Linked DNA regions of Homo sapiens: region 1 is linked to region 2. A link means that fine-mapping ties the variant in region 2 to the expression of a gene that starts in the linked region. Tissue or cell type: whole blood. Region 2 holds a variant in brackets; the other region holds the start of a gene. All regions are shown on one strand. Distances are between the middles of the regions.

Evidence for each region.
Region 1: it holds the start of ARF5, and the variant in region 2 is fine-mapped to the expression of ARF5 in whole blood (TOPMed, PIP 0.97).

What each region holds. Positions count from the first base shown.
Region 1 is chr7:127,585,803-127,591,176 of GRCh38, reverse strand. ARF5 (ARF GTPase 5) reads right to left here and starts at 2,766. Exons shown (of 6, transcript NM_001662.4): 1 at 2,612-2,766; 2 at 2,014-2,094; 3 at 1,583-1,692; 4 at 1,040-1,111; 5 at 89-214. The coding sequence starts at 2,678. LOC105375490 (a long non-coding RNA gene) reads left to right here and starts at 1,331. Exons shown (of 5, transcript XR_007060511.1): 1 at 1,331-1,421. LOC105375489 (a long non-coding RNA gene) reads left to right here. Exons shown (of 3, transcript XR_007060513.1): 3 at 1,226-1,308. RefSeq lists enhancers at 1,440-2,065, 2,066-2,692, 2,693-3,318, 3,319-3,945, 5,233-5,374 and a silencer at 2,440-2,929.
Region 2 is chr7:127,640,565-127,645,938 of GRCh38, reverse strand. No RefSeq gene overlaps it. Among named protein-coding and RNA genes, the nearest start is that of SND1-DT, 8.6 kb to the left of the region's middle. The variant G/A (reference allele first, on the strand shown) is at 2,294.

The sequences.
Region 1 (5,374 bases), 55 kb after region 2:
GAACAAAAGGAATGCCTTTATATCTCTGTCCCAGCCTGCAGCTTCCCTCAAGAGGCAGGATTCAGCACCAGGTGGGCAGGACCCCTACCGTGCGGCTGCGTAAGTGCTGTAGCCCCAGCTTGTCAGTCAGCTCGCTCACGGGCATGGCGTTGGGCATGTCCTGCTTGTTGGCAAATACCAGCAGCACTGCATCCCGCAGCTCGTCCTCCTGCAGCTGAGAGAGGAGAAGAGAAGGTGGGACCCAGGCTGCGTCTCCTCTACTGTGTTGGGGAATTCCCTTTCTACCTCCTAGCATCTTGATTGGAAAAAAAAAGTATTGTGCAGTCTGCCGTTGAAGACAAGACATAGTTGTAAATGAGCTTGAGGTGACCTGAGCCCATAAGTCCAGAAAAGAAAGACCTTTTCCTAATTTGAGTACTTGCCTAGGCAAAATGACAACATTTCCAAATGGAAAAGGCAGGAATGTAAAATGTTTCTCTTTGCCACATATAAGTCCCATCTCTCCCACAACTTCTCAGACTCAGATGTAAAGACATGAGAATGCGGCCGGGCGCAGTGGCTCACTCCTGTAATCCCAGCACTTTGGGAGACCAAGACGGGTGGATCACCTGAGGTTGGGGGTTCAAGACCAGCCTGGCCAACATGGTGAAACCCCGTCTCTACTAAAAATACAAAAATTAACTGGGCATGGCAGCGGGCGCCTGTAATCCCAGCTACTTGGGAGGCTGAGGCAGGAGAATTGCTTGAACCCGGGAGACGGAGGTTGCAGTGAGCCGAGATTGCACCATTGCACTCCAGCCTGGGCAACAACAGCAAAACTCCCATTTCAAAAAAAAAAAAAGACAAGACAATGCACAGAAAAAGTGAAAAAGTCACTCCCATCCAAAACAGGGTGAGATACACAATGTGTCTGTCCACAAAGAAAAACTTATATTCCTGGTCTTCAATGCCTGTTGGGGGCTCCCTGACTTCTATACCACTACAGAGATCACTCTGTCCCCAAGCTGAGGGCTCAGTTCCCAGGGCTCTGGGTACTCACCATCTTCTGGAGTTCATCAGCAGATTCTTGGACCCGCTCCCGGTCATTACTGTCCACCACAAAGATGAGGCCCTGGGCAGGAAGGAAGGAAGAAAGGAGAAGCAATCACTTCTGCCTGGGACATACCGTAGTGTGGCCCTTTCTGTTTTCTTCCCATTTGTAATTGTGTCAATCCTTCTCATCTAGTAAACTCTACAGAAGTTTACAGAACTCTATAGAAGCTCTACAGGAGTCATGGCACAAACTAGAGACCCCACTGCAAAGAGGAAGTAGTTTATCCAAAGATGTGCAAGGAAATAAAGACATGTTATGAGGGCTAAATCAGGCAGCCTGGTCCCAGAATCCTGCTTCTAAAGAGAAGTCCAAGCTGGGGAAGACTAAGGTGAGTTCTGAAGAGTGAGTAGGGGATAGCCAAACAGAAGGGGTAGAAGTGGGGAAGGGTTTTTTCCTTGGCCTGGGGGCCCAGCCTAGGCCAACAATTCTGTTCTCCCAGCCCTAACACCTTTTCCCGTGGGGTTAGAAAGTCCCCTCCCAACACTCCACCTGAGTGTTCTGGAAGTAGTGCCGCCACAGAGGCCGAATCTTGTCCTGGCCTCCCACGTCCCAGACTGTGAAACAGATGTTCTTATATTCCACTGTTTCTACATTGAAGCCTGCAGATAATTGGAAAAAAAAGATGAGAAAACTCCTGAAAGAAAGGAACTCACTAAAACTACTTAGATTTCAGCAGGGACACAAAACCAGAAGGCAATGATCAAGGCCCAGGGGAACAGAACCCCAGAACTGGCGGTCAACAGGGCGGGGCTAGGTCACATCCACCCTGCCTCCGGTATCCACGTAGAGATACCCTGACCCACTTCTCAAATAGCTGTATCTGGTGTCAGGGTCAGCTCCAGAAAAGTGGCAGAACTGGGAGCAGACCCCGCGAGGGCCCGCCGCGGCGCTCCCGCTCCCTGCTTCGTCCCCGGGCTCACCTATGGTTGGGATGGTGGTGACAATCTCCCCCAACTTCAGTTTGTACAGGATTGTGGTCTTGCCAGCCGCATCCAAGCCAACTGCAACGGAAAGGGGCACAGGGATGGAGATGGGAGCGAGGGAGCCCCCTAGAGACCAGGGAAAGGGAGAGGCCACAACAGCTGATGGTGACTGGGGCGGAGAGCGGGAGCGCCTCCAGGTGCGCGTCGTTATCTACCTTTGAGGCCTGGAGGGCAGTCGGGTGGCGTGAGCCAACTCCAAAGAGGGCGCGGAGCGGGAGAGGACTGGGAGGCAAGGGGCACGGGAGGTAGGCCGCGCTCGTTTTAAAAGTCGTCTCCAAGGGCGGAATCCTCCCTTCTTACCAGCCGGGCTGGGGCGGAGGGAGCTTCACCCCACCCAGGCCCGCAGCTCCGGGTGTCAGGCCCCGGGGTCGGCGATGCAGACCGGGACCCGCCCGAGAGCAGAGGCCCCGGGGCGTTATGAGGTGGGTGACTCGGGGCCAGAGACCCAGGTGAGCGGGGCTGGAGGGACGCGGGGGCGGAAGGGCTGCGCCGGGGCCGGCGCCCCGGTCCGGGCCGCGCGCTCGATCTGCCTCACCCATGAGAATCCGCATCTGCTTCTTCCCGAAGATCCGCGAAAAGAGCGCGGACACGGTGAGGCCCATGGCGGGGCCCGGGGAGGGGCGCGGGCACCGACGCGGGGTGCGGGCTGGAACTGGCCGGCCGCGGGGGGATGGGGCGCAGCAGCAGCAGGAGGAGGCTCCGCCGCCGCCTCCGCGCGTCGCTGCCCTCCCGACGTCACCGCGGGCCCGCCCCCGTCCGGGCCCCGCCCCCGGCTCTCGGCCCCGCCTCCCCCGGCTCTGGCTCCTAGGGGAGCTGAAGCTCCGCGAGTTGCCGCTGCTGGCCTGGGTCCCGTGCGGCCCTTACTTGGGAACGGGTCTAGGTCTCTAACGCGCCTGCCAGGCCTGTGGCCGCCGAACCGGCAGCCCGAGCGCGGCTGAGGAAAGGATTCATCGCTCCGCAGCGGCCCCTGCCCCCATTTTCAGTGGCCGGCCGCTGGGCTTTGGTTTGTTGCGTCCAGGCCCCTAGGGGCTCCGGTTTTAGCCCTTGGGAACCAGTAGCACTGAACGTGTGCACCACTCTCCTTTGGGGAGTGGAAGCTGCGATTAGGGGTCTTGGTCCTCCCTTTACTGCCTCATCTTCCACCGAGGGACTTGCGCGTAGTAGGTGGTCGTGTGAAGAGTGCGCGGGAGGTAGGGGAAGGTGCCCGAGTGCTAGCTAGCTTCCATGGTTCCTCAAAACGCCTACTTCCTAATTCCCAATCCGCAGAACCAGTGTAAGATTCCCGGCCTTGGGCGGCGGGGTCACAGACCCACTCCTGGGCTGTTGGAGAAGTCCACCTTCGTTTGGATCGCCCTGCGGGCCCCGCCTCTCAGTCCAGGCGCTGGCCGCTTTGCCGAAGTTCCTCACTTTGCCACAGACTTGTGGACCTGGCTTATTCTTGCACATCCATTCAGGATTTTGTGAAGATCTTGACTCCGTAGACCCAAAGAGCTTCACATGTCATTTCCCTGCCTCATTTTAACATCTGAGAGGAGAATAGCAAAATAGGAATGAAATTCTTCTGCGGTGGAGACTGGCTCATTGCCAGGCATTATTAGGCCTAACAAATGCTTGTTCAGTTGAACTGGACTGATAGATTCTCAATGGAGCGAGGGTAGGTGTTATGTCTACTCTGGATTCCCAGTGGGCTTCTAGGATCAATTGTTTATGGACTCGAGGTAAACTGAGCTGGGAATAAAAAAACCTTCACTCATTCATTTGCTTTTTCAGCAGATATTTACTGAGCACCCACCACTTGCCAGCACGTGATTTCAGGCTTTAGTTCAAATCTTAATTCTGCCATTTCTTGAGGATTTGGCTTCAGCACTCCTCATAACTCTTCCGTTATTTCATCATCTATAAAATGAGACTTGTTCTAACTTAAGGGGTTATGGTGAATCTTAAAATGATTTGATAATGTGACTGAATGTTATGTATAATACAGCTTGATGTTATTTGGGCCACTGAGAAACGGGGTCTGAACAGACCTCCAGGGCCTGCCCCATCCTGATCTGCAAAGTCTGTAACAAGGACAGACTTTGGGAAACAGGTATGAGTGAGTGAATGACTTTCCTTTTCTCTTCAGTCATAGACTTGCATCCCTAAGAAGGCTTTTACGAGGCTGAAGAGTACATTTTAGAGAGTTCCAATATAATAACAGAACTAGTGTTCACCAAGTTAGGTCAATTCTACATTTAGCTCTTTTATCAGCCTCTTTGCTTCCATCTCTGTTGTCACTACCTTCTGTTCCCCATGACTGAAAGTCTCCTCACAGGTTTCCTGCCCCTTGTTCCCTCCAACATGTCATACAAGTCTTGATGACATCCCACTTTTCAGATTAAAATCCATTAGGGCCTTACTATAACCCAAGATAAAATTTAAATGCCATAAGTTGGGTCCCTACCTATTGTGCCAGCCCCTCTGTTGTCACCTCCTTCACATACCCTAAGCTACTGAATGCTTTCTGGGTGAGTCAAACTCCGATACCCTACAGGTCTTTGCATTTTTTTCCACCTGCCTGGAATGCTAGTTTCCCTGATCTCTGGTTAGGTGGACAATCACGACTCATCCTTCAAATCCCAAAGTATTATTCCCAAGAGCCTTCCATGCCTCACCTAGACAGGCCTCTTTCCTCTTAACTTTCATACCACTTTGAATATACCCAGACATACTGGTGTGATAGCAGGACATATTTGTATGTCTGGTTCCTCACTAGATTGCGAGCTCCCTGAGGGCAAGGTCGTGTCTCTTAATGGTGTTACCATCTGGCACAGCACGTGATACGTTGAGAATCAGACTGATTAGAACTCCTAAACTTACTAGCTGTGTGACCTTGGGCATGTTACGTATAACCTTTCTGCCTCATGTTTTCATATCTGTAAAATAGTGCTAATGAGTATAGTGCTTACAAGAATTACTGTAAAGACTAAATAGCAAAACTCTTGTGAGCTCCTGGTATATAGCTGGCACTCAGGATAGACATGGCTATAGAGTGCCCTCCGTAAATATTTGTGGAATCAACTCAGCAGAACTAAGGAAGGGTACTATTAGGCTGTATGCCTACTAGGTACCAAGCACTGTGCTATAGAGGACTGCAGTTTTCGTGGTCTAAATGGGAGTCTTAATTGTTGCCTTTTAGGGACCATGGGTCCTGAGCTCCCAAATCGTTGGATGCGTCGTTCACCTGGGTGTTTGGTAAGAATGCAGTGCGACGTTGCTCTGTCGCTCGCTGAGCGTAGCCCGAGGTCAAGCTTGGGCG
Region 2 (5,374 bases):
AACACATATGGCTAGTGACTATTGCATAGCATCAGATTAGGTGATTAAATTTGAATATTGCTGTCATATCTGTTACCATAATCTTCTATGTAGGTTTAAAAAATATTTCTGTATGCTTTGTGTAGCCCAAACTTGGTTAAAATGAGTAATAGCATAACCCATCATTTAAAAAAAGTTTTAAGAAACAACAAAAAAGTTTAGTTTGTAACATTAAAAGTGGAATGCACACATACTGTTAAGAAAAAAGAAAAAAAATCCTATGCTTTAGGCTTAGACATTATTTCTCAAACCTCATAGTAGAAAAAAATTATTTGAACATAAGGATAATAATGCGCTCTTCCCAATTTGCCCTATCTATATAATAACTCAATGTAAAGGACTTACAAAAGTGTAATCCTCATTTATATAAGTCTATGATTGGGTAACAATTACAAAACTTTTAGTTAGTGGATCAACTTTGTACCCTGTCCTGTTGTCATTTAATGGCAAGGCCAAACTTCATTCTATTCTCCCAAATGTCATTAATCAATGCCTCTGGGTTCTCAGTAGTCTTAGATAATTGTATATTAATTCGCTCCTGCTGCAGCTGTTGGCTTTGGCCACTGTCACGTTCTATCACTCCCAACCTTGCTTGCTACACAAATTTCTAAGAAAAAAGGCATAAAAAAACTTTATGCAATTGTACCACTTTTATTATAAGGTAGCATGTTGTTCTGAGACTCTGTAAACTGAGATGATCAAGATATTATGAAGATTCCTTTCTCTCCCCAGAATCCTGAAGTCGGTCCTAAAGTCAGCAAACTCAGAGTTAAAGTTTCAGCAAGTAACAGCAAACTAGATTAACCATGGCATAAACATACAGAAGTCCCCCCTTATCTGAAAGGTATATGTTCCAAGACCCCCAGCAGATGCCTGAAACTGCAGATAGTACTGCAGTAATTGCAGATATATATTGTTTTTTTCTATGCATATATACATAACTATGTATGTTTAATTTATAAATTAGGCACAGTAAGAGATTAACAATAATAACTAATAAGAAAACAGAACAATTATACAATATACTATAATAAATGTTATATGAATGATTCTCTCTTACTCTCTGAAAATATCTCAATGTTTTTGAACCACAATTGACTGTGGGTAACTGAAACTGCAGAAAGCAAAACTGCGGATTACAGTGAGCACTACTATACATTTTTCTCTTACAGATCAAGAAGCTGGAGGTATTTGTTTAAAAGTTCAACCATCTCAGTGCAGGCATCTCAGCAATTTCCTTGGCTTTTCCTTTGTAGTTGCAAAATAGCTGCTTCAGCTCCAGACACTGGAACAAGAAGGAAAAGGAGGAGGAAGAGGAGAAGGAGGCAACAAAAAGAAGAGGGAAAAGACCAATGCCAGAAACGTCTGCTCATTTTTATCAGGAGAGCAAGTTTTCCCAGAAGTGCCCATCCTAAGGCCTAAGGCCTCTCCTTGCTGCAGGGGAGGCTGGGAAGGCATTTTGATTGACGAGAGAGGGAATCAGAAATGGGTATTAGGGTGGCCTGAACCTTGGGCCTCTTCTTTTCTTCTGGCCAATTCTGCCTTTCTAGAACTCTGGCCTATTCCCAAGCTCCATTCTCTCTCTCTCTTTATTTATTTTTTTTTTTGAGATGGAGTCTCGCTCTGTTTGTCGCCAGGCTGGAGTGCAGTGGCACGATCTTGGCTCGCTGCAACCTCCACCTCCCGGGTTCAAGCAATTCTCCTGCCTCAGCCTCCCGAGTAGCTGGGACTACAGGCACATGCCACCATGCCCAGCTAATTTTTGTATTTTTAGTAGAGACAGGGTTTCACCATGTTGGCTGGGATGGTCTCGATATCTTGACCTCATGATCTGCCCACCTCAGCCTCTCAAAGTGCTGGGATTAGAGGCGTGAGCCAACTGCATCTGGCCTCCATTCTCTCTTTCAAGACAGAATCCTGGCCCCTCATTCTCTCCAGAACCAAAAAGCCAAAAGCAGTAAGCGTGTGTTTCATGATTGCTGTCTCTGGTCCAGGGCTCCCAGTACTAAAGGCCTGCCTCGGGGAACGTGCAGGCCCGGGACCACCGGCTTCCTCCACTTCTCTGCTATCTTGTGCCTGCAGAAAGGCCTCCTGTCCACTGAAGGACATAACCCTGTGTACATTGCCCTCTCTTGCTTACTGTGGCTCCAGCAGCAATAGCCACACTAAAAATCTCACCCCAAATACACCTAGAGCTTTCTGTCCCTGGTTTTTTGCCTACACCCAATTCCCTCCACTTGGAATGCCGTTCTAC[G/A]GCTCAGTTCAGACACAGCTTTTCCCATAAAGTTATCTGAGAGGCCTCCAATCAGAAGTGACTCTTCCTTCCCCTTTATCCCCAGACATTTTGGATAATGCCTTTCTGGTGGTGTGCACTGCACTCTCCTCGTGTCATAGTTGTTTGTGTAACAGTTGAACTGACCAGTAAACTTTTTGGCAATAAGCTCCTATGAATCTTGTTAACTTGTGTGTTCTCCATAGGCCTGGCACTGCCTTGTAAAGAATAAGCACTCAATAATTGTATTTTGAACTAAATTGAAGTATTCAGTCTGTTTGAATGTCTGAGATGACTTATTTACCTTCTCTTTGCATTCCTTATATCTGTTATATATCCTTTGTGATTTCTGGAAATTGAACCTAAGAGTGTCAGGTATAGTTAGGGTGAAAGTTAGGGATCTTAGTGGGGGTTACTATCATTGGATGGATCCCAACATAGTATAGTTCATGGAATCATAAATATTATTTAACTTCTGCCAACAATAGAATGTGTCTGCACCTCTTCCAGTGCCCACACATGCCTTAACTATAGCCTGCTCCTGTATATTAGATAAGGGAGGCCGGCTGTGGGAACAAAAGAACTAATTATTCAGTGACCTAGATAATACAAAGGTGTATTTCTTTCTCACACAACAGCCCAGGATGGTGACTTTCCTCACATAATCATCCAAAGACTGAGGCTGGTGGCAGCTCTCCCATCTACTAACAGGAGTTCTAATAGCAAAACAGTTCTCATTTAAAGTCAAGAGCAGGCCAGGTGCGGTGGCTCACACCTGTAATCCCAGCACTTTGGGAGGCTGAGGCAGGCAGATCACCTGAGGTCAGCAGTTCGAGACCAGCTTGACCAACATGGAGAAACCCCGTCTCTACTAAAAATACAAAATTAGCTGGGCGTGGTGGAGTATGCCTGTAATCCCAGCTACTCAGGAGGCTGAGGCAGGAGAATCGCTTGAACCCTGGAGGCGGAGGTTGCAGTGAGCCAAGATCGAGCCATTGCTCTCCAGCCTGGGCAACAAGAGCGAAATTCCATCTCAAAATAAATAAATAAATAAATAAATGAAATAAAGTCAAGAGCAAAGGAAGAGGTGTCATGTAATGATGCAGAAACATTTTGAGAAGATAGATGTTGAGATAGTCGCATTAGATGTTCTCAATCTTCTAAATAAAGTGGGAGGACTTGGGAATCAGAAGACAGGATGAATTTCTATAGAATCAGTGACCCCCAGACTGAAGATGAGGCCCTTTCCAGGGAAGGCAGGCCCTGGAATCACCAGGAGTGGATCCAGACCGAAGCCAGACCTCTGGACTGGGTGGGCATCGTCCCCACTAGGACAACTGCTGTCAGCTGTCAGAGCTTAGGGACCAGAGCAATGAAGATGAAGCAAAGAAAGAGGTTAGGATCTGGATGAATGGTAAGGGTCAGGAGTGCAGGGGAAGGCCAGAAGTGAGAGAATGGGCCCCAGGGCCTGTGAATAGAGACAGGATAACTGGAATGCTGAGGGTGGAGCTACCACCACCAAGACAGATTTGTCATTGCTGGGAGTCAGAGGATAGGGACAGGAGCTGAGGCAAGAGGCCAGGGTTCAGGTGGCAGCTGAAGGGGCACAGTCAACTCAGGGTGGATTTCAGGATGGTCCTTGCATTTTTTTCAGGTGCCTTTTTCTGGCTCTCCTCCATATTAATTCTCCCGAAGGATAACTATTTCAGATAGAATAATGATCTCTTTCAGCCACATTCCACACAAATACCACAGATACCAAAAAGTGGAAAATCATCTCTTTCCTCTTTACTCCAAGTCTTTGTTTCATGCATTTGAGAGTGGCATAAATTCCAATATAAAATGATTTTGTGAAACATCAAAGTATATTTGCTATTTATACCATACTCTGTTGTTCAGTGGAGAGCAGTTAATAGAGTTTGCTCTCTTAAGAGTGCTTCAGAGGATAAGATGTTGCTTTATGAGCAATTGAAACAGGCTAAACTACCAATGAGTTATGTAATGTTTACATTTTCTTTCTTTCTTTCTTTCTTTTTTTTTTTTTTTTTTTTTTTTTTTTAGAGACGGAGTCTCACTCTGTCGCCCAGGCTGGAGTGCAGTGACATGATCTCAGCTCACTACAACCTCTGCCTCCTGGGTTCAAGCAATTCTCCTGTCTCAGCCTGCTGAGTAGCTGGGACTACAGGCACTCGCTGCCATGCCTGGCTAATTTTTTTGTATTTTAGTAGAGACGGGGTTTCACCGTGTTGCCCAGGCTGGTCTTGAACTCCTGAGCTCAGGCAATCTGCCCGCCTCGGGCTCCCAAAGTGCTAGGATTACACGTGTGAGCTACCATGCCCGGCCTTTTACTTTTTTTTCTTTCTCTTTTTTTTTTTTTTTGAGATGGAGTCTTGCTCTGTTGCCCAGGCTGGAGTGCAGTGGCACGATCTCGGCTCACTGCAACCTCCACCTCCCCAGTTCAAGAGATTCTCCTGCCTCAACCTCCCAAGCAGCTGGGACTACAGGTGCCCACCACCACGCTTGGCTAATTTTTGTATTTTTAGTAGAGATAGGGTTTCACCACATTGGCCAGGCTGGTCTCGAACTGCTGACCTTGTGATCCTCCTACCTCGGCCTCCCAAAGTTCTGGGATTACAGGCATGAGCCCCCACGCCCAGCCTACTTTTTTTTTTTTTTAGCTCTCAATACAGAGCCTTTGAGCTGTTTCCCTCTGCCTGGAGCTCTGTCCCTAGAACAGGGAACAAAAATGGACAAAATCTCTGCATTCTGGGAGCTCACATTCTAATATCAGAAACTCAGGATGAGATCATTATAATGGTTAAACTTTAAATTTGAATTAGAAGTACTTGTAACCAAGGCAAAAACAAAGAAGACACATTAAGGTTATATAATTCTCACTGTCTGATCCAAGTAAACATATTATTTAATGGGAAGAGACAAACATTTCCCTTGACACTGATTTCTAGAAGACTTTCATTACATGACTCTTTATTTAAAGAACAATGAGTAATACAATGGGCAATGTTTTTTGGTTTTTTCTCAAATTTTAATTTTTATGGGTAC